Linked DNA regions of Homo sapiens: region 2 is linked to region 1. Evidence: fine-mapped expression QTL. A gene starts in region 1. The other region holds a variant in brackets. All regions are shown on one strand. Distances are between the middles of the regions.

Region 1 (12,291 bases):
CTCTACTAAAAATACAAAAATTAGCCGGGCCTGGTGGCATGCACCTGTAAGCCTAGCTACTTGGGAGGCTGAGGCAGGAGAATTGCTCGAACCTGGGAGGCGGAGGTTGTGGTGAGCTGAGATCATGCCACTGCACTCCATGGGCAACAGAGCAAGACCCTGTCTCAAAAAAAAAAAAAAAAGTTCGATCCTTATCTTACACCATATACAAAAAATAACTCAGATTAAATAACTAAATGTAAGACCCAAAACTATAAAATGCCTGAAAGAAGACACAGCAGATTGATTTCAGGATTGATTTCCAACAATCTGATTTCAGACTTCTGGCCTCCAGAACTGTGAGAAAATAAATGTCTTGTTTTCAGCCACCAAGTTTCTGGTAATTTGTCATAGCAGCCAGGGGAAACTGATATAGTACAGTGAATAAGTAATAACTCTAATGCCAGGTAAATCGGTGCTATGAAGATAAAAAGCCCGGGAGGAGAGTTACAAGGAATGTTATCACCCTAACTTAGGATGGTTAATGGACCTGGCCTCAAGTCAAAAGCCCTGTAACAACCACGTACTTGGGAAGTTAGAACAGCAGAGAGGTGCACCACGATTTTTCTTCTTTTTAATTAGAGAAAGGGGCCAGGCGCGGTGGCTCACGCCTGTAATCCCAGCACTTTGGAAGGCCGAGGCGGGTGGATCACCTGAGGTCAGGAGTTCAAGACCAACCTGGCCAATATGGTGAAACCCCGTTTCTACTAAAAATACAAAAATTAGCCGGGTGTGATAGCATGCGCCTGTAATCCCAGCTACTCAGGAGGCTGAGGCAGGAGAATTGCTTGAACCCAGGAGGCAGAAGTTGGAGTGAGCCGAGATTGCACCATTGCTCTCCAGCCTGGGCGACAGAGCAAGACTTGGTCTCAAGCAATCCTCCTGCCTCAGCCTCCCAAGTAGCTAGGACTACAGTCACGTGCCACCATACCTGGCTAATTTTTTTTTTTTTTAGAGATGAGGTCTCGCTATGTTGCCCAGGCTGGTTTCAAATTTCTGGCCTCAAGGGATCCTCCTGCCTTGGCCTCTCAAATGGCTGGGATTACAGGTGTGAGCTACCATGACTGACCATCATGATTTTAACAAAACTGACAGGAGAATAAAAATAAGGGCAAAGTAGTAGCCAGAGGCTAGGTCCCATAAGCGCAGAAGCAGGGACCTTAGGGTTAGAAAGCAAAGGAATGTCACACATGTTCAGAGGCTCTGCAGGATGACAGGGCATAGGGACATGACTTGGGAGGCTGTTGCTCTAAATACCTAACTAGGCCAAGAAGGAGGGAGAAGTGCTGGAATTCTGGATGTATTTTACATATAGAGCCAATAGGATTTGCCAATGGATCAGAGGCAGGGAGTCAAGAGAGGGAATGGGAGCAGTCATGCCATATAGTACACCTGTAGTTCCAGCAGCTAGGGAGGCTGAGATGGGAGGATCGCTTGAGCCTGGGAGGTCAAGGCTGCAGTGAGCTTTGATCGTGCCACTGCCCACCAGCCTGGGTGATAGAGGAAGATCTTGTCTCAAAAAAAAAAAATGTCTGTGAGTTTAAACTAAATTACTGGATGATGGTGGTGTCATTTACTGAGATAAGAAACACCTGGGGAGGAACTATCCGGGCACAAATTATGAGCTCTGACCTGGACACATTAAGTATGAGGTCCCATTTGCCATCCAAGTGGAGATCCCAAATAGACATTCGGGTTCTTGTGTCTGCAGTTCGAGGAGAGGTCAGAGGAGTCACCAAGCCATGCATCTGAGTGAGCTCACGCAGAGTGGGCGAGATGTGAGCAGGCAGGGTCTGACAGCAGGGATCCCATGACGCCAGCCTGCTTTGCATGCTAGGACAGCTCAGGCTCTGGCCCTGCCTTCAACAACAGCCTTGGGCTCACGTTACAGCAGCATCCCCAAGGAGCCTCCTGCTTGTCACTGGCTTGTGTCCAGCCAGGCACAAATTTGCAACTGGGCAATTCTAACCTCTAGAGTGAGTAAGCCATTCCCATGGGGCGCTCAACTCCTCATAGAAAAAACTTTTATTGGCCGGGAGTGGTGACTCACACTGTAATCCCAGCACTTTAAGAGGCCGAGGTGGGATGATCACTTGAGGTCAGGAGTTCAAGACCAGCCTGGCCAACATGGTGAAACCCTATCTCTACTAAAAATACAAAAATTAGCCAGGCGTGGTGGCAGGCACCTGTAATCCCAGCTACTCGGGAGGCTGAGGCAGGAGAATCACTTGAATCCAGGAGGCAGAGGTTGCAGTGAGCCGAGTTAGCGCCACTGCAGTCCAGCTTGGGCAACAGGGCGAGACTCCATCTCAAAAAAACAAAAACAAAACAAAAAACTTTTATCAGGCCGGACTCAGTGGCTCATGCCTATAATCCCAGCACTTTGGGAACACAAAGTGGAAAGGATCAATTGAGCACAGGAGTTCGAGACTAGCCTGGGCAACATGGTAAGACCCCCCCCCATCTCTACAAAAGATAAAAATTAGCCAGACGTGGCGTGTGTGCCTGTGGGTCCACCTACCTAGAAGTCTGAGGTGGGAGGATCACTTGAGCTCAGGAGTTTGAGGCTGCAGTGAGCTACGATCGTGCCACTGCATTCCACCCTGTGTGACAGAGTGAGACCCTGTCTCTCTTAAAAAAAAAAAAAAAAAAAAGTCCAAAAATCCTTTTTGCAGCCAGGCGAGATGGCTCACATCTATAATCCCAGCACTTTGGGAGGCCTAGGTGGGCGAATCGCCTGAGGTCAGGAGTTCGAGACCAGTCTGGCCAACCTGGTGAAACCCCATCTCTACTAAAAATACAAAAAATTAGCCAGGCATGGTGGTGCACACCTGTAATCCCAGCTACTTGGGAGGCTGAGGCAGGAGAATTGCTTGAACCCAGGAGGTGGAGATTGCAATGAGCTGGGATCGTGCCACTGCACTCCAGCCTGGGAAAGAAGAGCAAACCTCCATCTCAAAATAAATAAATAAATAAATAAATATAAATAAAAAGCAAAAATCCTTTTTGCTTTCAGCAAAAAAAATCTTGCATGAGCAATGTAACTGAATATGTCAGATCTGATGTTTCACCTGGAACTGTGGCTGACAAGGAGCTCCTACAAGGTGTGGAAGTGCCAGCTCCATCTTTTCGCTCATCTGGGTGTGTTAGCATCTTCTTTTTTTTTTTTTTTGTTTATTTGTTTGAGACAGGCTGTACAATGGCATGATCAGAGCTCACTAGAGCCTCCAAATCCTGGACTCAAGCGATCCTCCCGTCTCAGCCTCCTGAGTAGCTGTGACTACAGGTGCACACCACCACTCCCAGATAATTTTTTTTTTTCCGAAGAGATGTGAGGGGGTCTCACTATGTTGCCCAGGCTGGTCTTGAACTCCTGACCTCAAGCGATCCTCCCAGTTCAGCCTCCCAAAGTGCTGGGATTACAGGTATAAGCCACTGCACCCAGTCTGCATCATCTTCAATCTGTGCTTTCTTTTTTTTTTTTTGAGATGGAGTCTTGCTCTGTCACCAGGCTGGGGTGCAGTGGCGCAATCTCGGCTCACCGCAACCTCCAACTCCCTGGTTCAAGCGATTTTCCTGCCTCAGCCTCCCAAGTAGCTGGGATTGCAGGCACGTACCACCATGCCCAGCTAATTTTTGTATTTTTAGTAGAGACGGGGTTTCACCATGTTGGCCAGGATGGTCTCGATCTCCTGACCTCACGATCCACCCGCCTCAGCCTCTCAAAGTGCTGGGATTACAGGTGTGAGCCACCACGCCAGGCCCAATCTGTGCTTTCTTTGCAGGAATTGTTTTCAACTATGAGTCCATTCTGTGAGGGTTAATTTAGTCAAAACTGGATAACATCACTCAACCAAGCTGGCTCAGGCTCACAGCCCCTCCAGGCCACTATGCACTTCTCTGCCCTGCACTGTGGGCACAGCATCAACATGGCCCTGCCCGCTGCATCCAGACGGGATTGGTTAACGGGAGGCAATGGAAGAATAAGAAGAGCAGGGGAGTCAGATCAGAATAGCCCTTCTGGGCCCTCTTCCCCATGAGTCCCCCAGAACTGGGGACCCCTCTTGCACAGCTCCTCTCAGGCAGGCCTCTCCTCCAGGGACCCCCTCTATGCCCCCTTACCCTGGGCTGGTAACTGCTGCCACCCCTCCAACTGTGCCAGTCCTTACTGATCTCCTTTAATCCCCCCTCCCCAGTGCATTGCAAACATCCCCTTTATCAAACTCTCCCCAGTTAGCCCCACTAAGTGGCACTTTCTGTTTCCAGCCAGGGTCCTGCCTGGTATATGCCCTACAGCCAAGTTACAAGGCTCTCATTCCCCTCTCTTTCCTTCCCCTTTTTTTCCCTCCCTATCTTTTTTGACAGGGTCTCTGTCACCCAGGCTAGAGTGCAATGGTGCAATCATAGCTCACTGCAGCCTCAACCTCCTGAGGTCAAGTATCCTCCCACCTCAGCCTCCCAAGTAACTAACTACAGGCATGAGCCACCATGCCTGGCTAATTAAAAAAAAAAAAAAAAGTCTGGGCGCGGTGGCTCACGCCTGTAATCCCAGCACTTTGGGAGGCCAAGGTGGGTGGATCACCTGAGGTCCAGAATTCGAGACCAGCCTGACCAACATGGAGAAACCCCGTCTCTATTAAAAATACAAAATTAGCCAGGTATGGTGGTGCATGCCTATAATCCCAGCTATTCCAGAGGCTGAGGCAGGAGAATGGCTTGAACCCGGGAGGTGGAGGTTGCTGTGAGCTGAGATCGCACCATTGCACTCCAGCCTGGGCAACAAGAGTGAAACTCCATTTCAAAAAAAAAAAAAGTTAGAAGAGACAGGGTTTCACTTCATTGCTTAAGCTGATCTCCAATTCCTGGCCCCACGTGATGCTCCCACCTTGGCCTCCCAAAGTGCTGGGATTATAGGTGTGAGCCACTGTGCCCAGCCTTCTTTCTCATGAGAAATTAAAAATTCTGGCCAGGCGTGGTGGCTCACACCTGTAATCCCAGCACTTTGGGAAGCCGAGGAGGGTGGATCACCTGAGGTCAGGAGTTCAGGACCAGCCTGGTCAACATGGTGAAACCTCATCTCTACTAAAAATACAAAAATTAGTCGGTCATGGTGGTGCACGCCTGTAATATCAGCTACTCGGGAGGCTAAGGTGGGAGAATTGCTTGAACCTGGGAGGTGGAGACTGCGGTGAGCCGAGATCCCGCCACTGCACTCCAGCCTAGGCAACAGAGCGAGACCGAATCTAAAAAAAGAAAAAAAAAATCTAGTATTTTCTTCCCACCCCACGTAATTGTTTTGCACCCAGGGGTGAGTGCCCCCCACTTTGCAGACGTGCCTAGACCTCTCCCCACAAACATGATGACTAGAGTTGGAGCTGGGCTAGCGCTGCCTCTTGTTCACTGGGTTCACGTGGGCACGTGGCTCCACTCCGGTCACTGCTTCCTGGGCAGAGGGATGACGTGGAAGGTAGACCTAGGGGGGACAGGGTTGCTTCCTGCCCATGTCCAGCATTCTAGAATTGTCCACATCTAGGCAGGGCGTTCCACCATCAGTGCTGGACTGGACCACCCAATTCCTTTGGACGCTTGACTCAGCCCAAACCCGTGCTCCCTCCAGGACCCTGGGCAGGGCAGCCCCAGCTCCAGGTAATCGGCACTGAGAAGAGTACACCTGTCACCGCCTGGCAGGGGCTCGCTCCTTTCTCTGGTGCTGCTCATTCGCGAGGCCTGAGACGCGGACCGTCACCTTCCCCGGGCCCAGCCTGGCCTCAATGCAGGCCTCAGAGAGAGGGACAAAACCCGGCCCGCCTCCCTCCCCTCCCCAAGGCGACCACCAGTGTCCTGGGGGTCCACAGGGCCTCTCCAGCTCTGATCCGAGTTCCCGGCTGCAGCTGGTTTGGGTCTGTGGGGGCCTCGCGCAGGGAAGCGGAGGCCCCTTCTCTAGGCTCCTACATCCTCCTGGCCTGCCCCAGCAGAGCTAGCGGCCCTCCGAGACAGCTGGGCCTCGCAGCTCCCAGCCGAGGCCTGTCGCTGGGAGAAAGAAGAATGAATGAAGGGCGGAAGGGGCGGGGAGGGGCGGGGCGCGCCGCGCCAGCTCGCGGCGCCCCCAGGCCGGGCCGCAGCGGGGCGTGGCCTCTAGAGGCGTGGCCTTGGGCGTGGGGGCGGGGTTTTCTGGTGGGGGCGGGGCCGCGCAGGGCCGTTCCCGCCGCCGGCCGCCCGCGCCCCGCCCCCGTGCCGCAGCTCACAGGCCCCGCCTCGGTCCGCCCCTCCGCTCGCTCCCCAAGCCGCCGCGGCGCCGAGCCGGTTTCCCCGCCGGTGTCCGAGAGGCGCCCCCGGCCCGGCCCGGCCCGGCCCGCGCCCTCCGCCCCCGCCTCCCCGGGCCGGCGGCGGTGGGCGAGCTCGCGGGCCCGGCCGCCCCCAGCCCCAGCCCCGCCGGGCCCCGCCCCCCGTCGAGTGCATGAGGTTGACGCTACTTTGTTGCACCTGGAGGGAAGAACGTATGGGAGAGGAAGGTGCGCGGGCCGCGGGGTGTGGGGCGAGGGCCTGGAGGGGGTGCCCGGGGCAGCGTGGGGCACGGGAGGGGGCCGGGTCTGCCAGGAGGCCGCGCCCCTGCCTCCTCCGGGATGAGCTCGTCCTTACGAAGCCCGCAGGCCCCTCCCTGTCCCCCTCCCGCCCGGGATCCCCCTCCCCGGCCCCCGGCGAGCTGCCCTCCTGCGGGTCTGGGGGCCCCTGGACCCTTTTTCCTCCTCCCACGTCCCCCCGCGAAGGACTCCCAGACACTGCCCACCCCGCGTCGGCCTCCATCCGCGTGCTCTGTCCACCACCCGGGCCTCGCCCTGGGGCCACCCTTTATCCAGTCTCGGAAGAAAGAGCGGCTGGGGAAGCCGCAGCCCCGGGTCCCAGTGGCCGCCGGGCGCCTGCCCGGCTCTGTGACCTTGAGCCAGGCGCTGACTTCCTGGTCCTCAGTTTCCCCTTCTGTACATTTGGAAACTGGGTAGTTGCCCCCCCGGTGTCGGTGATTGGGGGCCAGATGGGTAGAGCGGAGATAGGCGTCCAGGAAGCCGGAGGCCGTGTACTGCGGGAGCCTCATCCACTCTCCCTGTCCGTGCCCCAAACCCGGTGCCTGCCCTCAGTCTTGGCTGGGAGCATGACTCATCCTAACCTCCTCTTTAGCCCCTTCTCCCTCACTGGGGCCCAAGGCGCAGTACTGCACTGCAGTTAGGGTTCAAGGACTCCCCCAGCCTAGGACAGGGTCTGGGGGCCCCTCCTTGGATCTCCTTCGCTGACCTGTCACTTAGATCCACCTGGCCCCAAGGCAGGGCCTGACTCCACACCTCCCCCTGCCACCAACTCTTCCCAGGCCCATGAAAACCTGATTGGGGTAGGGGCCCACCTTCCTGTAGCCCCTGCCTACCTAAGGTACCTGCGTCTTCACAGAGGGTCAGGCTGTTGTGGCCTTGGGACCTAGCTATGTGACTGGGCAAGCCATGCCATCTCTGGGGCTCAGTCTCCCCTTCTGTACAGTGGAGAGGGGCAGGTCTGGGGCATTTTCCAGGGCCCACCAGCTCCAAGGGTGCCAGGCCCCAAGGATGACTAAGCATGCCTGTGGCTGGCTAGAGGAGGTGCCAGGCCTCCCTGGGACAGGTGTCTGGGAGTACCCAGGTCTGCAGCCCCCTCCCCTTGCCAAGCCAGGGCATTCATTGCCAAGGATCTGTTAGGGCCGGCACCTCCAGGCTTCCTGCCCTTGACCTCCCAGCTGGCTTCAGCCCAGGATGCACTAATCCAGCCCTGTCCAGTCCCTGCCTTTGAAGGGCCCTCTTAGTACTTCTTCCTGGGCAGGAGAGGGAAGAAAGGAGGCTGTGATAGGAATGTCACCCACTGCCTTATCCCTAAAGCCACTGCTTCCTTTCTCCTCATTTACCTTGCCAGATCCAATGCTATAGCGGGAGGATGGACCTGATCCTCCTCCTAAGCTGATACATAGGGAAACAGGGCCAGAGAAGCTTGGCAACCTAGTCAGTATCTCAGCAAGACTCAGGCCAGCGCCCTTTCTTCTCCTATTTGGCACAGCGACTGCCCTGCCTGGGCGCTGCACATGTGCAGTGTGCGAGGATTGGTGCAGGTGTAGGTATATGTGGGGTGGGCAGGGCAAGCTGGGCCTGCACCAGATCACACTTCCTGAGAATGCTTCCCAACTCCCTTCCCACCCTGCAGGAAGCGAGTTGCCCGTGTGTGCAAGCTGCGGCCAGAGGATCTATGATGGCCAGTACCTCCAGGCCCTGAACGCGGACTGGCACGCAGACTGCTTCAGGTAGGGTGGGGTGCCCAGGGCCTGTGTTGCCCTAAACAAGGCCTGCCAGAGAGGACAGGCTGGTCAAGGAATGGGGGAGGCCGGGATATGCCTCCTGGTGCCGTCCCCTATTGTGACTTCGTGGCCTTAATTTACCATTTATGACATGAGGTGTTTTGACTAGAAAATCCCTACAGGCCTTCCTGTTGTCATTTTATTTATCTATTTTTTTTTCTTTTTGAGACGGAGTCTCGCTCTGTCACCCAGGCTGGAGTACAGTGGTGCGATCTTGGCTCATTGCAACCTCTTCCTCCTGGGCTCACGCAGTTCTCCTGTGTCAGCCTCTGGAGTAGCTGGGATTACAGGCGTGCACCACCACGCCCAGCTAATTTTTGTATTTTTAGTAGAGACGGGTTTTGCCATGTTAGCCAGGCTGGTCTGAAACTTCTGACCTCAAGTGATCTTCCCACCTCAGCCTCCCAAAGTGCTGGGATGACAGACATAAACCACCGCTCCTGGCCTCATTTTATTTTCTTTTATGTATTTTTCTTTTTTCGAAATGGTCTTGCTCTGTTGCCCAGGCTGGAGTGCAGTGGTGCCATCTCGGCTCATTGCAACCTCCATCTCCCGGGCTAAAGTGATCCTCCTACTTCAGCCTCCCGAGTAGCTGGGATTATAGGTATACACCACAATGCTCAGCTAATTTTTTAAATTTTGTGTAAAGACAGGGTCTCACTATTGAGACCCAGGCTGGTCTTGAACTTGTGACCTCAAGCAATCCTCCTGCCTTGGCCTCCGAAAGTGCTAGGCTTACAGGCGTGAGCTAACGCCTTGGCCTCTGTTGTCATCCTAGATCTCTGAGATCTAAATCTTAGAGAGGATGGGAGAGACCTCCAATTGAGCCAGTGCCTGCAATTCAGCCCCCTGCTGGCACCCAGACAGGGGGAAGAGTTGGAAGGAATGTCCCTCCTGCCTTCTGGGTGTTCATGCTCTTGCAGGGAGGGAAGACAAACCAGGCCTTAAGGGAAACCAGGCCACCCTCAGTGTCTTCCAGGCTGCTTGCGAACATGCATAACCCAGTCACACCAGCCCCAGTGTCCAGACACACACCCACAGGTAGGAAGAAAGTAGGGTCAGGGTTGTGGCGGAGGATAAAGAGTACATGAGGACCTGAAGGTCACCCAGTAGGACCATCCTGAGAAGCCAGGAGCAGGGGTCTACCTGCCTTGAGCCAGAGCAGGGCCAGAGCAGGGGTCTCAAAGGATGTGAGATTTCCTGGGTAGAAAAGTAGAGTGGAGGTGGGGCGTGGTGGCTCACACCTATAATCCCATCACTTTTTGGGGCTGAGGTGGGCAGATCACTTGAGTTCAGGAGTTCGAGACAAGCCTGGGCAATATGGCAACACCCTGTCTCCACTGAAAATACAAAAAATTAGCCGGGCGTGGTGGCGCATGCCTGTAGTCCCAGCTACTCAAGAGGCTGAGGTGGCAGGGTTACTTGAGCCTGGGAGGTGGAGGCTGCAGTGAGCTATGATCGCACCACTGCACTCTAGCCTGGGCAATAGAGCGAGACCCAGTCTCAATTTTTAAAAAAGAAAGAAAGAAAAACAAATGGTGTGGGAGAGAATTACAGGCATAGTCACCAAACAGCAAGGTTCAGGGGAGAAAACTCCATAAAAGGGTAGAAGGTGAAGCTTCTGGGATGCCCAGCAGGGGTCAAGACATCCACCACTAGGACTTTATTTTAGGCTTCTGCCTTGGTTTATTTTTTGGTTTTTGGTTTTTTTGAGACAGTCTTGTTGTGTCGCCCAGGCTGGGGAGCAGTGGCGCGATCCCTCCTCACTGCAACCTCCGCCTCCCAGGTTCAAGCGATTCTCCTGCTTCAGCCTCCCAAGTAGCTGGGATTACAGGTGTGCACCACCACGCCCGGCTAAGTTTTGTATTTTCAGTAGAGATAGGGTTTTGCCATGTTGGCCAGGCTGGTCTCGAACTCCTGACCTCAAGTGATCTGCCCGCCTCAGCCTCCCAAAATGCTGGAATTACAGGCATGAGCCACTGCACCTGGCCTCGGTTTGTTTTTTTGTTTCTTCTTTTCTTTTTTTTTACACAGGGTCTTGCTGTGTCACCCAGGCTGGCGTGCAGTGGTGAGATCATAGCCCACTGTAGCCTCCAGCTCCAACTGGTTCAAGCGATCCTTCTGACTCAGCCTCCCAAAGTGCTGGGATTACAAGCATAAGCCACCATGCCCAGCCTGTTTTTTCTTTTTTAGGAATAACGTCTAACGTTTTCTAACATTCAGTAAGGGACAACCCCTGTTCTAAGTACTTTGCATAGTTAGATATTAGTGCTGTCTTTGTTTTGCCAGAGAGAAAATTGGGACACAGAGAGGTTAATTCTCTTGATGAAAGTCACACAGCCAGTGAGTGAAATGAACACACTCAGTGTGGCTGAAAGGAGACAGACAGCATGCCCTGGGATTCTGCATCAGGTGCTCAGAAAGAGGCCTTCGGGGGGCAAGAGGGCTCTCAACAGGCAGAGGAAACCATCTGCACAGCGGTGGGATGGTGCGGACTGCTGAGGGAACAGGAACAGTTCCCTTGGAAGGAACAGAATAAGCTGAGGGATCCAACAAGAAACAAAGTTGAGACCGATTCGTGAAGGGCCTTGAATGCCAAGATAAGGAGTTTCAGAAGTCAGGATGGGGGTGGTGGCTCATCCCCGTAATCCCAGCACTTTGGGAGGCCGAGGCAGGCAGATCACTTGACCCCAGGAGCTTGAGACCAGCCTGGCCAACGTGGTGAAACCCCCGTCTCTACTAAATATTCAAAAATTAGCCAGGCATGGTGGCACATGACTGTAATCCAAGCTACTCGGGAGGCTAAGGAAGGAGAATCACTTGAACCTGGGAGGCGGAGGCTGCAGTGAGCTGAGATCACGTCACTGCACTCCAGCCTGGGAGACAGAGCGAGACTCCATCTCAAAAAAAAAAAAAAAAAAAAATAGAAGGGAGTCGGCAGAAAGCCAGGGAGGGGCTGGGGTGACATGCTGTTGAAGAATGCCATCCCAGTGGGCCGGTGGTGGTATCTAGGCAGGGAAGGGACTGTCCCAGTAACTCAAGGGTCTGAGCTCATAGGACCTGACCTGGGACAGTGACTGAGGATGGAGAGAATTTCAGGCAGAAGGGACAGTTTTTGGTGAGTATTTGTCATATTGGCTACCATGCATTGAGCACTCTTCATGCTAATTTGTTAAATCTTCATCATAACTCTATGAGGGACTGTATGTGCCCAGTTTGCATGGGAGAAACAGAGATTCCATGCAATCAAGTGCCTCGCTGAAGGTTGTAACATCTAGAGCTGGGACTAAAACCTTCTCACTCCACATCGCCACAGAGTAGGAAAGGCAGGGGCTGGCGGTGGCACATGCCTATAATCCCAGCCCTTTGGGAGGCGGAGGCAGGTGGATCTCTTGAGCCCAGGAGTTTGAGACCAGTGTGGGCAACATAGTGAAACCTTGTCTCTACAAAAAAATTAGCTGAGCATGGTGGTGGTGCCTGTAGTCCCAGCTACTCAAGGGCGCTGACATGGGAGGGTTGCTTGAGCCTGGGAGGTGGAGGTTGCAGTGAGCTATGATCACACCACTGCAAGCCAGCCTGGGTGACAGAGTGAAATCCCATCTCAAAAAAAAGAAAGAAAGGAAGAAAGAAAAAGACAGGGGCTTCGGGGAGGGCATGGGCACTGGCGAATGGCAGGGTGGAACCTGAAGCCATCTGGTTTTCTAACCTGGGCACTGGGGAGTTGGTGGTTTGTTGACTCTGATGGAATTGGGGGTCATGTTGGGGAGGAGACATGCTCATCTGTGTTGAGCTGGAGGGGACATGGGCTATCCATGGTGGCTGTGTCCTGCCCAGAGCTAGCCATGGGAGCCTGAGTCCAGTTGGAGGTAGGAAAGTCAGAAAAAACG
Region 2 (12,291 bases), 51 kb after region 1:
TCTGCCTCCCAGGTTCAAGCAATTCTCCCAACTTAGCCTCCCAAGTAGCTGGGACTAGAGGCATGCACCACCATGCTAATTTTTGTGTTTTTAGTAGAGATGGGGTTTCACCATGTTGTCCAGGCTGGTCTCAAACTCCTTGCCTCAAGTGATCCACCCACCTCAGGCTCCCAAAGTGCTGGGATTATAGATGTGAGCCACCATGCCCAGCCTCCACATGAATTTTTAGGATGAGCTTGTCAATTTCTGAAAACAAGCCAGCTGGGGATTTGTTTGTTTAGACACAAGATGTCATTCTGTCACCCAGACTGGAGTGCAGTGGCACAACTCCTAGCTCACTGCAGCCTGGAACCCCTAGGCTCAAGTGATCCTCTCATCTCAGCCTCCTGAGTACCAGGGAATACAGACACATGCCACCATGCCCTGCTAATTTTTTAATTTTTGTAGCGACATGGTCTCAAACTCCTGCCCAACCAGGCTGATCTCTTTTTTTTTTTGAGATGGACTCTCACTCTGTCGCCCAGGCTGGAGTGCAGTGGCGCAACCTCGCCTCACTGCAACCTCTGCCTCCTGGGTTCAAGCGATTCTCCTCCCTCAGCCTCCCGAGTAGCTGGTGGGCATGGGCGCCTGCCACCATGCCCGGCTAATTTTTCATATTTTTAGTAGAGATGGGGTTTCACCATGTTGGCCAGGCTGGTCTCGAACTCCTGGCCTCAAGTGATCCTCCTGCCTCAGCCTCCCACAGCACTGGAATTACAGGCATGAGTCACTGTTCCCGGTCCAGCTGAGGATTTTGACAGGGATTGGTTTATGTCTATATGTGAACTGGGGAGTATTGGAATATTGACATCGTAATAATATTAAGTCTCTCAGGCCAGGCATGGTGGCTCACACCTGTAATCCCAGCACTTTGGGAGCTCGAGGCAGGTGGATCAATTGAGGTCAGGAGTTCAAGACCAGCCTGGCCAACATGGCGAAACCCCGCCTCTGCTAAAAATACAAAAATTAGCCAGGTGTGGTGGTGTGTGCCTGTAGTTCCAGCTACTTGGGAGGCCGAGGCAAGAGGATCACTTGAACCTGGTAGGCAGAGGTGGCAGTGAGCCTAGATTGCACCACTGCACTCCAGCCTGGGTGAAAGAGCAAGGCTCTGTCTCAAAAAAAAAAAAAAAAAAAAGGAAGAAGGAGGAGGAGGAGGGGGAGAAGGAGAAGGGGAAGGAAGGAGGAAGGAGGAAGAAGAAGAAATACCTGAAACTGGGTAATTTTTTTTTTGAGAAAGGATCTTGCTCTGTTTCCCAGGCTGGAGTGCAGTGGCACAATCTTGGCTCACTGCAACAACCACCTCCTGGGTTCAAGCGATTCTCATGCCTCAGCCTCCTGAGTAGCTGGAATTGAGATGTGCACACCACGCCCAGCTAATTTTTATATTTTTAGTAGAGACGCGGTTTCATCATGTTGGCCAGGCTGGTCTCGAACCCCTGACCTCAGGTGATCAACCCACCTCAGCCTCCCAAGTGCCGCAATTACAGGCGTGTGAGCCACTGCGCCCGGCTTCAAAAGTACCATTTAATGGCTGACAATTACTTGCCCTGAAATGTGAAACAAAATTCATTTACTACATTGTTTTTAAGATAGCACCTGACCTTCAGTAATCGGAAATAATGATTTCCTATAAATAAAAACCACTGCAGTGCTTTTAGTGATTAGTGTACATAGAGTTTTTCCCCTGGCTGTGACATCATATTATTAAAAGCATTAAGCACCTGGAATTCATGCTGTAGTTGATTTATAAGTTACATAATGTACAAAGCTCCTTTTATAAGAATGTTTTGTGGTCACAATTACTTCAAAACCCAATTACATTCAAATAATCTAATAGCTCATGCTTTGGCAATTATAGAAGTGTGATTTTGACACATAGAAATTTTATGAGGTTAGCAAATAAAAAACGCTATAAAAGAGGTGAACAATGGTTCCTCTGTTTAAATTTAGAGTGCAGCAATATTTAGGTAATATTTTTCAGTTAATATAATCAGCCTAGAATATAGCATTGTAAATCATACAGTGTTTTAGAAATACGGATCTAAAGAAGGTAATACCTTTTCCAAATTATAAAATTTTGGCAAATCAATACAGTACTTTGTAATACAATAAAACTATGTTTTTGTTGGAGTCATATATGACTTTAATCATAATTTCCACTGCAAAAGCACCACCTAAATACTAAATCAATTATGAAGGCTTTTCATGACAGTTTATAACAGAGTCAGTTGTTTTACACAAATTAATATGGCTTTTAAAAAATTATATAATTTCTTGGCCGGGCACACTGGCTCATGACTGTAATCCCAGCACTTTGTGGGGCTGAGACCAGCAAATTGCTGAGCTCAGGAGTTTGAGACCAGCATGGACAACATGGCAAGACCCTGTCTCTAAAAATAAAAATGTTTTAAAAGCTGCAGAGTTAACACAGTAGAGAAATCATGTGCATATAAAATATGCTACGTTTCCTTCTGGGATTGGTCCAAAACTGCTCACAAAAAACTTCAAAACTCTACTTTAAGAAGTTCCAGGCCGGGCACGGTGGCTCACGCCTGTAATCCCAGCACTTTGGGAGGCCGAGGCAGGCGAATCACAAGGTCAGGAGTTCGAGACCAGCCTGGCCAACATGGTGAAACCCCGTCTCTACTAAAAATACAATAAAAATTAGCTCAGCATAGAGGCGTGCGCCTGTAATCCCAGGTACTCGGGAGGCTGAGGCAGGAGAGTCACTTGAACCTGGGAGGCGGAGGTTGCAGTAAGCCAAGATCGCGCTACTGCACTCCAGCCCAGGCGACAGAGCGAGACTCTGTCTCAGGAAAAAAAAAAAAAAAAGAAGCTCCAATACCAAATTAAAGTCGTTTTTCAAGTATTGGTAAATCTTCCATAAACAGGGCAACACTTAATGATCAATAGATCATTCGACTAGGGCTTATGCTGGTGGATCTCTTTTGTTTAAAGCTCCAAACTCAGCTGGGCTTGGTGCTTCACGCCTGTAATCCCAGCACTTTAGGAGGCCAAGGCAGGTGGATCACCTGAGGTCAGAAGTTCGAGACCAGCCTGGCCAACATAGTGAAACCCCCGTCTGTACTAAAAATACAAAAATTAGACAGGCGTGGTGGCACAGAAAAAAAAAAGTCAATTATCCTATTTGGGGATTTAAATTATACTATTTTTTATTTTTTTGAGACAGAGTTTCACTCTGTCACCCAGTCTGGAGTGCAGTGGTACAATCTTAGCTCACTGCAACCTCCACCTCCTGAGTTCAAGCGATTCTCCTGCCTCAGCCTCCCGAGTAGCTAGGATTACAGGCACCAGCCACCACCTGGCTAATTTTTGTATTTTTTGTAGAGACGGGGTTTCACCATGTTGGCCAGGCTGGTCTCAAACTCCTGGCCTCAAGTGATCTGCCTGCTTCGGCCTCCCAAAGTACTGGGATTACAGGAGTGAGCCACCACACCACCTCGACCAGCCTTTTCCTCTATAAATTTAAAAAAAAAAAAAGGCCAGGTGCGGAGGTTCATGCCCGTAATCCCAGCACTTTGGGACGGATCACTGTAATTCCAGCTACTCAGGAGCCTGAGGCAGGAGGATCACTTGAACCCAGGAGTCGGAGGTTGCAGTGAACCAAGATTGCTCCACTGCACTCCAGCCTGGGCAACAGAGCAAGACTCCAGCTCAAAAACAAAGAAAAAAGAAAAAGGCCAGGTAAGGTGACTTACATCTGTAATCCCAGTACTTTGGGAAGCTGAGGCAGGAGGATTGCTTGAGCCCAGGAGTTCAAGGCTACAGTAAGCTAGTAAGCTATGATTGCACCACTGTGCTGCAGCCTGGGTGACAGAGCCAGACCCTGTCTCATGAAAAAAAAAAAAAAAAAAAAAAAAAAGAAAAGAAAAGAAAGGAAGAAAAGTGCCAAATTGTTTCTCAAAGCAGTTCTAGTGATTTATGGTCTCACTTGCAGTATATCAGATTCTTCGTTGTCCAGATCTTTTTAATTTTTTACAGACTAACAGGTACAATACAGTATCTTACTGTGGTACTAATTTGAGTTTCCCTGATTTCCTCTATAGTTGAGCATCTTTACGTGTTTAGTGGCCACTCATGTTTCTTCAGATCTTCTGCCTGCCTTCCTCCCTCCCTTCCTCCCTCCCTTCCTCCCTTCCTCCTTCCCGCCCTCCCTTCCTTTTTTTTTTTTTTTTTTTTTTTTTTGAGACGGAGTCTTGCTCTGTCGCCCAGGCTGGAGTGCAGTGGCGGGACCTCAGCTCACTACAAGCTCCACCTCCCAAGTTAAATCGATTATCCGGCCTCAGCCTCCTGAGTAGCTGGGACTACAGGCGCCCGCCACCACGCCCAGCTAATTTTTTGTATTTTCAGTAGAGACAGGGTTTCACCGTGTTAGCCAGGATGGTCTCGATCTCCTGACCTCATGATCCGCCCACCTCGGCCTCCCAAAGTGCTGGGATTACAGGCGTGAGCGTGAGCCACCGCGCCCGGCCCCTTCCTTCTTTTTTTTTAAAAAGAGAGACGGGTGCTCCCTTTGGCAGCAGATATACTAAAAAAGAGAGACGGGAAGGCCAGGCACAGTGGCTCACACCTGTAATCCCAGCACTTTGAGAGGCCGAGGCTGGTGGATCACCTGAGGTCAGAAGTTCGAGACCAGCCTGGCCAACATGGTGAAACCCCATCTCTACTAAAAATACAAAATTAGACGGGTGTGGTAGTGCATGCCTGTAATCCCAGCTACTCAGGAGGCTGAGGCAGGAGAATCAATGAACCCGGGAGGCGAAAGTTGCAGAGAGATGAGATTGTGCCATTGCATTCCAGCCTGGGCAACAAGAGCGAAACTACGTCTCAAAAAAAAAAATGCATAAGTTTTGTGAACAAATATTTCATAATTTTCTCTACTGAGGTCTTAGACTTTTTTTTTTTACATTTTACAGAATACTTCATATCTTCTTTGTCTCTCCCCTTTTTTTTTGCAATCACCTTGAAAACATTAAGATTCAGATGGTCCTCTAATTTTCCTGTCTCCTGTTATCCTTTGTGGTGTGTGTGTGTGTGTGTGTGTGTGTGTGTGTGTGTGTGTGTGTGTGTGTTTGAGACAGAGTCTCACTCTGCTGGACAGGCTGCAGTAGAGTGATGGCATCTCGGCTCGCTGCAACCTCCGCCTCCTGGGCTCAAGTGATTCTCCTGCTTCAGCCTCCCGAGTAGCTGGGATTATCGGCATGTGCCACCACCCCTAGCTAATTTTTGTATTTTTAGTAGAGACGGGGTTTCACCATGTTGGCCAGGCTGGTTTCAAACTCTTGACCTCAAGTGATCTGCCCACCTCAGCCTCCCAAACTGCTGGGATTACAGACATGAGCCACTGCGCCCAGCCTGTTATCCTTTGTTTTTGGAAGGAAGCATTTGAAAAAGAGTGACTCTATCTTGAATAGGGGCTGGGTAAGATGAGGCTGAGACCTGCTGGGCTGCATTCCCAGTAGGTGAGACATTCTTATTCACAGGATGAGACAGAAGGTTGGCAGGACTGGTATCACAAGATACGGGTCACAAAGACCCTGCTGATAAAACAGGATGCTGACAGGGCACAGTGGCTCACTCCTGTAATCCCAGCATTCTGGGAGGCTGAGGCGGGCAAATCACTTGATGCCAGGAGATCAAGACCAGCCTGGCCAACATGGTGAAACCCTGTCTCTACCAAAAATACAAAAATTACCCAGACATGGTGGCAGGCACCTGTACTCCCAGCTACTCAGGAGGCTGAGGCAAGAGAATTGCTTGAACTCGGGAGGCAGAAGTTGCAGTGAGCCAGGATCGCACCACTGCACTCCAGACGGGGCAACAGAGCGAGACTCCATCCCAAAAAAAAAAAAAAAAAAGAAAACAAAAACAGGACGCAGTAAAGAAGCCAGCCCCAAAACCCACCAACAGTGATGAAACTGACCTCTGGTCATCCTCACTGCTCATTATACACTAATTATAATACATTACCATGCTAAAAGACACTCCCACCAGGACTATGACAGTTTACAAGTGCCACGGCAACACCCGGAAGTTACCCTATATGGTCTAAAAGAAGGAAGAA[C/A]CCTCAGTTCTGGGAAATCCCTGCCCTTTCCTGGAAAACTCATGAATAACCCATACTTCGTTTAGCATAGAATGAAGAAATAACTGTAAGTATACTCAGTCAAGCAGCCCATGCCACTGCTCTGCCTATGGAGGAGTCACTCTTTATTCCTTTCCTATTCTTTTTTTTTTTTTCTTTTTCGAGACAGAGTCCCGCTCTGTTGCCCAGGCTGGAGTGCAGTGGCACAATCTTGACTCACTGCAACCTCTGCCTCCCAGGTTCAAGCAATTCTCCTGCCTCAGCCTTCCGAGTAGCTGGAATTACAGGTATGCACCACCACACCCAGCTAATTTTTGTATTTTTAATAGAGATGGAGTTTCACCAGGTTGGCCAGGCTGGTCTCGAACTCCTGACCTCAGGTGATCCACCTGCCTCAGCCTCCCAAAGTGCTGGAATTACAGACGTGAGCCACTGCGCCCGGCTATTCCTTTATTTTCCTGATAAGCTTGCTTTCAGGTCGGGTGTGATGGTTCACATGTGTAATCCCAGCACTTTGGGAGGCCTAAGTGGCAGGACTGCTTGAGCCCAGAAATTCAAGACCAACCAGCGCAACATAGTGAGACCATATTTCTATTAAAAAAAAAACAAAAACAAAAAAAACTTGGCCAACATGACGAAAACCTGCCTCTACTAAAAAAATACAAAAATTAGCCAGGAATGGTAACACATGCCTGTAATCCCAGCTACTCAGGAGGCTGAGGCAGGACAGTCACTTGAACCTGGGAGGCAGAGCTTGCAATGAGCTGAGATCAAGCCACTGCACTCGAGCCTGGGTGACAGAGCGAGACTCTGTCTAAAAAAAAAATACAAAATAAAAAAAAGAACTTATTTATGTAACCAAATACCACCTGTTCACCTGTTCCCCAAAAACCTGTTGAAACAAAAATAAATAAATAAATATAAAGAAATAATTTTTATTTATTTATTTTATTATATTTTGAGATGGAGTCCCGCTCTGTCGCCCAGGCTGGAGTGCAATGGCGCGATCTTGGCTCACTGCAAGCTCCGCCTCCCGGGTTCACACTATTCTCCTGCCTCAGCCTCCCGAGCAGCTGGGACTACAGGCGCCCGCCACCACGCCCGGCTAATTTTTTGTATTTTTAGTGGAGACAAGGTTTCACCGTGTTAACCATGATAGTTTCCATCTCCTGACCTCGTGATCCGCCCACCTTGGCCTCCCAAAGTGCTGGGATTACAGGCGTGAGCCACTGCACCCGGCCCCAAGAAATAATTTTTTTAAAAGCTGGGGTTTCCAAAAACCCTCTCCTGGAGTTAGATAATTTTCTAGAATGGCTCACAGAGCTCAGGGAAATACTTTACTTATGTTAAGTAATTTTTTTTTTATTTTTTATTTTTTGAGACTCACTCTGTCGCCAGGCTGGAGTACAGTGGCGCAATCCCAGCTCACTGCAACCTCCACTTCCTGGGATCAAGCGATTCTCCTGCCTCAGCCTCCTGAGTAGCTGGGACTACAGGCGCAGGCCACCACGTCCAGCTAATTTTTGTATTTTTAGTAGAGACAGGGTTTCACCGTGTTGGCCAGGATGGTCTCGATCTCTTGACCTTGTGATCACTCGCCTCAGCCTCTCAAAGTGCTGGGACTGATTACAGGCATGAGCCACTGCACCCGCTGCAACTAGTTTATTATATTCAAATTTTTTTACTTAAATTTTTTTTTTTTTTTTTTTTTGAGACGGAGTCTCGCTCCGTCCCCCAGGCTGGAGTACAGTGATACAATCTCGGCTCACTGCAACCTCCGCCTCCAAGGTTCATGCCATTCTCCTGCCTCACCCTCCCGAGTGGCTGGGACTGCAGGCGCGTGCCACCACGCCCGGCTAATTTTTTGTATTTTCAGTAGAGACGGAGTTTCACTGTGTTAGCCAGGATGGTCTCAATCTCCCAATTCCATGATCCGCCCACCTGGGCCTCCCAAAGTGCTGGGATTACAGGCATGAGCCACCACACCTGGCCTTTTTTACTTAATTTTTAAAATAGGGATGGAATCTTGCTATCTTGCCCAGGCTGGTCTTGAATTCCTGGGCTCAAGTGATTCTCTCACCTCAGCCTCACCCTCTGTAGTAGCTCGAACTACAGGTGCACACCACCACATGCAGCTAAGTTTTTAATTTTCCTTTTTTTTTTTTTTTGAGACGAAGTTTCACTCTTGTCGCCCAGGCTGGAGTGCAATGGCGTGGTCTCAGCTCACTGCAATCTCTGCCTCCTGGGTTCAAGCGATTCTCCTGCCTCAGCCTCCCGAGTAGCTGGGACTACAGGCACCTGCCACCACGCCTGGTTAATTTTGTATTTTAGTAGAGACAGGGTTTCACCATGTTGGTCAGGCTGGTCTTCAGCTCCTGACCTCAGGTGATCCACCCGCCTTGGCCTCCCAAAGTGCTGGAATTACAGGTGTGAGCCACCACACCCAGCCTTTAATTTTATTTTCTATAGAGAGGAGTCCCATAATATTACCCAAGCTGGTCTCAAACTCTTGGCCTCAATAAATCCTCCCACCTCAGCCTCCTGAGTAGCTAGGACTACAGGAGTGCACCACCATGCCCAGCTAATGTTTTTATGTTTTGTAGAGATGAGGGTCTCATTATGTTGCCCAGGCTCGTCTTGAACTCCTGGGCTCAAGTGATCCATCCTCCTGCCTCAGCTTCCCAAAGTGCTGGGATTACAGGTGTGAGCAAACATGCCCAGCCTAATATTATTAATACATCGTAGCTGTCCATATTTATAGGGTGCATGTGAAATTTTGTTATGTGCATAGAAGTGAGATTGTAGGAACCAAGGAAAAAACTTCTGCTTCACCTTCTGAAGGTTTGCTGATAAATCAGCTCACAAAAGGCAGATTAATTAGAAAAAGGGGGATACAAATTGCATTCACACGTATCTGGGGAGAACCACACCACAGCGTGATTACCCACCACCCCAAAGGCGTTCAGACGCTTATATACCATCTTCTTTTTTTTTTTAAGTAGAGACTGGGTTTTCGCCATGTTGCCAGGCTGGTCTTGAACTCCTGCACTCAAGTGATCTTCCCCTCTTGGCCTCCCAAAGTGGCGCTGGGATTACCGCCATGAGCCACTGTGCCTGGCACTATATACATATATATAGATATGTATACATATCTATATCTATAGATATCTATATATCTATATCTATATGTATACATATCTATATATATAGACATGTGTATATATATCTATAGATATCGATATCTATAGATATAGATATACTATCTTGCAGATACAGAAAGAATAGGGGTTTGGATCCTGGTAAAACAGGTTATGGCAGGGGGAAGAAAGAGGAATTCTATTGAGGGGACATAAAAGATTACTGGGGGCTAGGCAGAGTGGCTCATGCCTGTAATCCTAGCACTTTGGGAGGCCAAGGTGGGCAGATCACTTGAGGTCAGGAGTTCGAGACCAGCCTGGCCAACATGGCGAAACCCTGTCTCTACTCAAAACACAAAAATTAGCCAGTCATGGTGGCACATAGCTGAAATCCCAGCTACTCAGGAGGCTGAGGCAGGAGAATCACTTGAACCCAGGAGGAGGAAGTTGCAGTGAGCTGAGATGGCATCACTGCACTCCAGCCTGGGTGACAGAGTGAGACTCCATCTCAATAAAAATAAAAATAAAAATAAAAATAAACATTGCTGGGGAGAATGAATGGATTTAGGAACAGAGATTAACTTGTACATAATTCTCTTTGGAATTTCAATGAGCCTGAGGGAGACATTATCTTGCGGAAGAGTCTGTTCAGGTGTGGTTCCATTCTTGATTTTATAGAAAGGAGAAGAAAAAAAAACAATTGTTTTCCTTGTTGAGGGGGGATGTCTGGATCTTAGGCAGAGAAAGTAACTTCAACTTCATCCTGTGCTGTGGGGGAAAAGACGGTCTTTTAGACACAGTTTATCGTTACTGCTGCTTTTCCTGTGTTTGGCCTATACCTTCCTGCCTCTTTGAATGATGGGTAGACCAGAGTTTGTGAGTCAATTTGTATTAGCTGTGTGATCTGGAGCAAGCTACTGTTGTCAGAGGAGTTTGAACCACAGTGATTCCATCTTGAATAGGGGGTGGGTAAAATGAGGCTGAGACCTGCTGATATTGACAGGAGGCAGCCAATTGCCTAGGCCAATAGGGGCGGGTCCGCGGTGAAACCCCACCTCCAACCCGAAGACGGTTTAAAGCCTGAAACTGAAGGTACAAGTTTAAACCTTAGACCGGATTGAGAGCTTACCTTCCTGTTTGTCGCGCTTTCCTCTGATTGATCCCCACCCTTCGCCTATTTTACATATACCCACCCTTTCCTAATTGGTTTTCTACTCTTTCTTTTTTTTTTTGACAGAGTCTCGCTCTGTCACCCAGGCTGGAGTGCAGTGGTGCAATCTCGGCTCACTGCAATCTCCACCCCCCGGGTTCATGTCATTCTCCTGCCTCAGCCTCCCCAGTAGCTGGGACTACAGGCGCCTGCTACCACGCCCGGCTAATTTTTTGTATTTTTTAGTAGAGATGAGGTTTCACCGTGTTAGCCAGGATGGCCTCAATCTCCTGACCTTGTGATCTGCCCGCCTTGGCCTCCCAAAGTGCTGGCATTACAGGCATGAGCCACCGTGCCCGGCGGTTTTCTACTCTTTCATGACCACCTTTGAGTAGTGTCTTTGCTTTAACTCACCTCATTAGCATAAACTCCAGTGTGATCAAAAGGACTCATTATAAATAACAAAAGACATTCCTCCAACTCCTGGACTTAAGGGATCCCTCAAGCAAGCCTCAGCCTCCTGAATAGCTGGGACTACTCCTTTTTGCATACTCACAAGCCAATCAGCACACACTCCCCACCCTGTGCCTATAAAGGCTCCAGACTCAGTCAGCAGGGGAAAAGACGACCTGACTTCGGGGAAGGCAGCCTGCACTTCCCATCCCCTCTCCAGCTCCCCTCTCCACTGAGAGTCGCTTTCATTGCTCAATAAAATTCTCCACCTTCATCATCCTTCAATCGTCCGTGTAACTTCATTCTTCCTGGATGCTGGACAAGAGCTTGGGACCCAGTGAGTGAGGATACCCAGAAAGGCTGTCACACTGGGCCTTTGCCCTCGCCTGTGAAGGGCAGCTGTCCCCATGTGATGAGGCAAGGGGCCAGCTGATCTGCTGACATGTCACCATCTGTGGACAGCAGAACTAAAGGAGCACTGTAATAACACCCCCTCTGCAGCTTCGGGGACACGGGCACCCTCACCTAGGTGCTGCTGCTTTCCCCTCAAGGTGACATGCCTGCTCTGGCCATGGGCCCTGCATACAGCTTGCTCCTGTGTTGGTGCCTGGAGAAGCCAGCTGGCCAGATCCCACACTTAGTCACTTGTGTGCTCCCTCCTGCAAGGGGTTGAGCACAGGGGGCTGAGTAGATGGGGCATCCCTTCCATGAGTCCAGCGAAGGTGCCTAGAAAAACCCTGCATCACCACTGAGCTACTTTCCCAGGAGGTGAGGCATTCCCAGTCACAGGATGACACAGGAGGGTGGCACAAGACATAGGTGACAAAAAACCTTGCTGATAAAACAGGTTGCAGCAAAGAAGCCGGCCAAAACCCACCAAAACCAAGGTGGCGATGAAAGTGACCTCTGGTAGGCTGGGTGCGGTGGCTCAACGCCTATAATCCCAGCACTTTGGGAGGCCCAGGCGGGCGGATCACCTGAGGCCAGGAGTTTGAGACCAGCCTGACCAACATGGAGAAACTCCGTCTCTACTAAAAATACAAAAAATTAGCTGGGCGTGGTGGCACATGCTTGTAATCCCAGCTACTCAGGAGGCTGAGGCAGGAGAATTGCTTGAACCCGGGAGGCGGAGGTTGCAGTGAGCCAAGATCGTGCCATTGCATTCTAGCCTGGATGACAAGAGTGAAACTCCATCTCAAAAAATAGAAAGAAAGTGACCTCTGGTCGTCCTCACTGCTCATTATGTGCTAATTATAATATATTAGCATGCTAAAGACACTCCCATCAGTGCCATGACAGTTTAGAAATGCCGTGGCAACATCAGGAAGTTACCCTATATTGTCTAAAAAGGGGAGGAACCGGCCGGGCGCAGTGGCTCATGCCTGTAATCCCAGCACTTTGGGAGGCCA

Evidence for each region.
Region 2: its variant is fine-mapped to the expression of LIMK1 in whole blood (INTERVAL, PIP above 0.99).

The regions. Positions count from the first base shown.
Region 1 is chr7:74,077,495-74,089,785 of GRCh38, forward strand. LIMK1 (LIM domain kinase 1) reads left to right here and starts at 6,310. Exons shown (of 16, transcript NM_002314.4): 1 at 6,310-6,551; 2 at 8,254-8,350. The coding sequence starts at 6,497. RefSeq lists enhancers at 5,010-5,688, 5,684-5,793, 5,689-6,367, 6,854-7,123, 7,635-8,234 and 1 more and silencers at 6,064-6,333, 6,454-6,503, 6,614-6,663.
Region 2 is chr7:74,128,331-74,140,621 of GRCh38, forward strand. No RefSeq gene overlaps it. Among named protein-coding and RNA genes, the nearest start is that of EIF4H, 40 kb to the right of the region's middle. RefSeq lists enhancers at 4,733-5,520, 10,495-11,024. The variant C/A (reference allele first, on the strand shown) is at 6,125.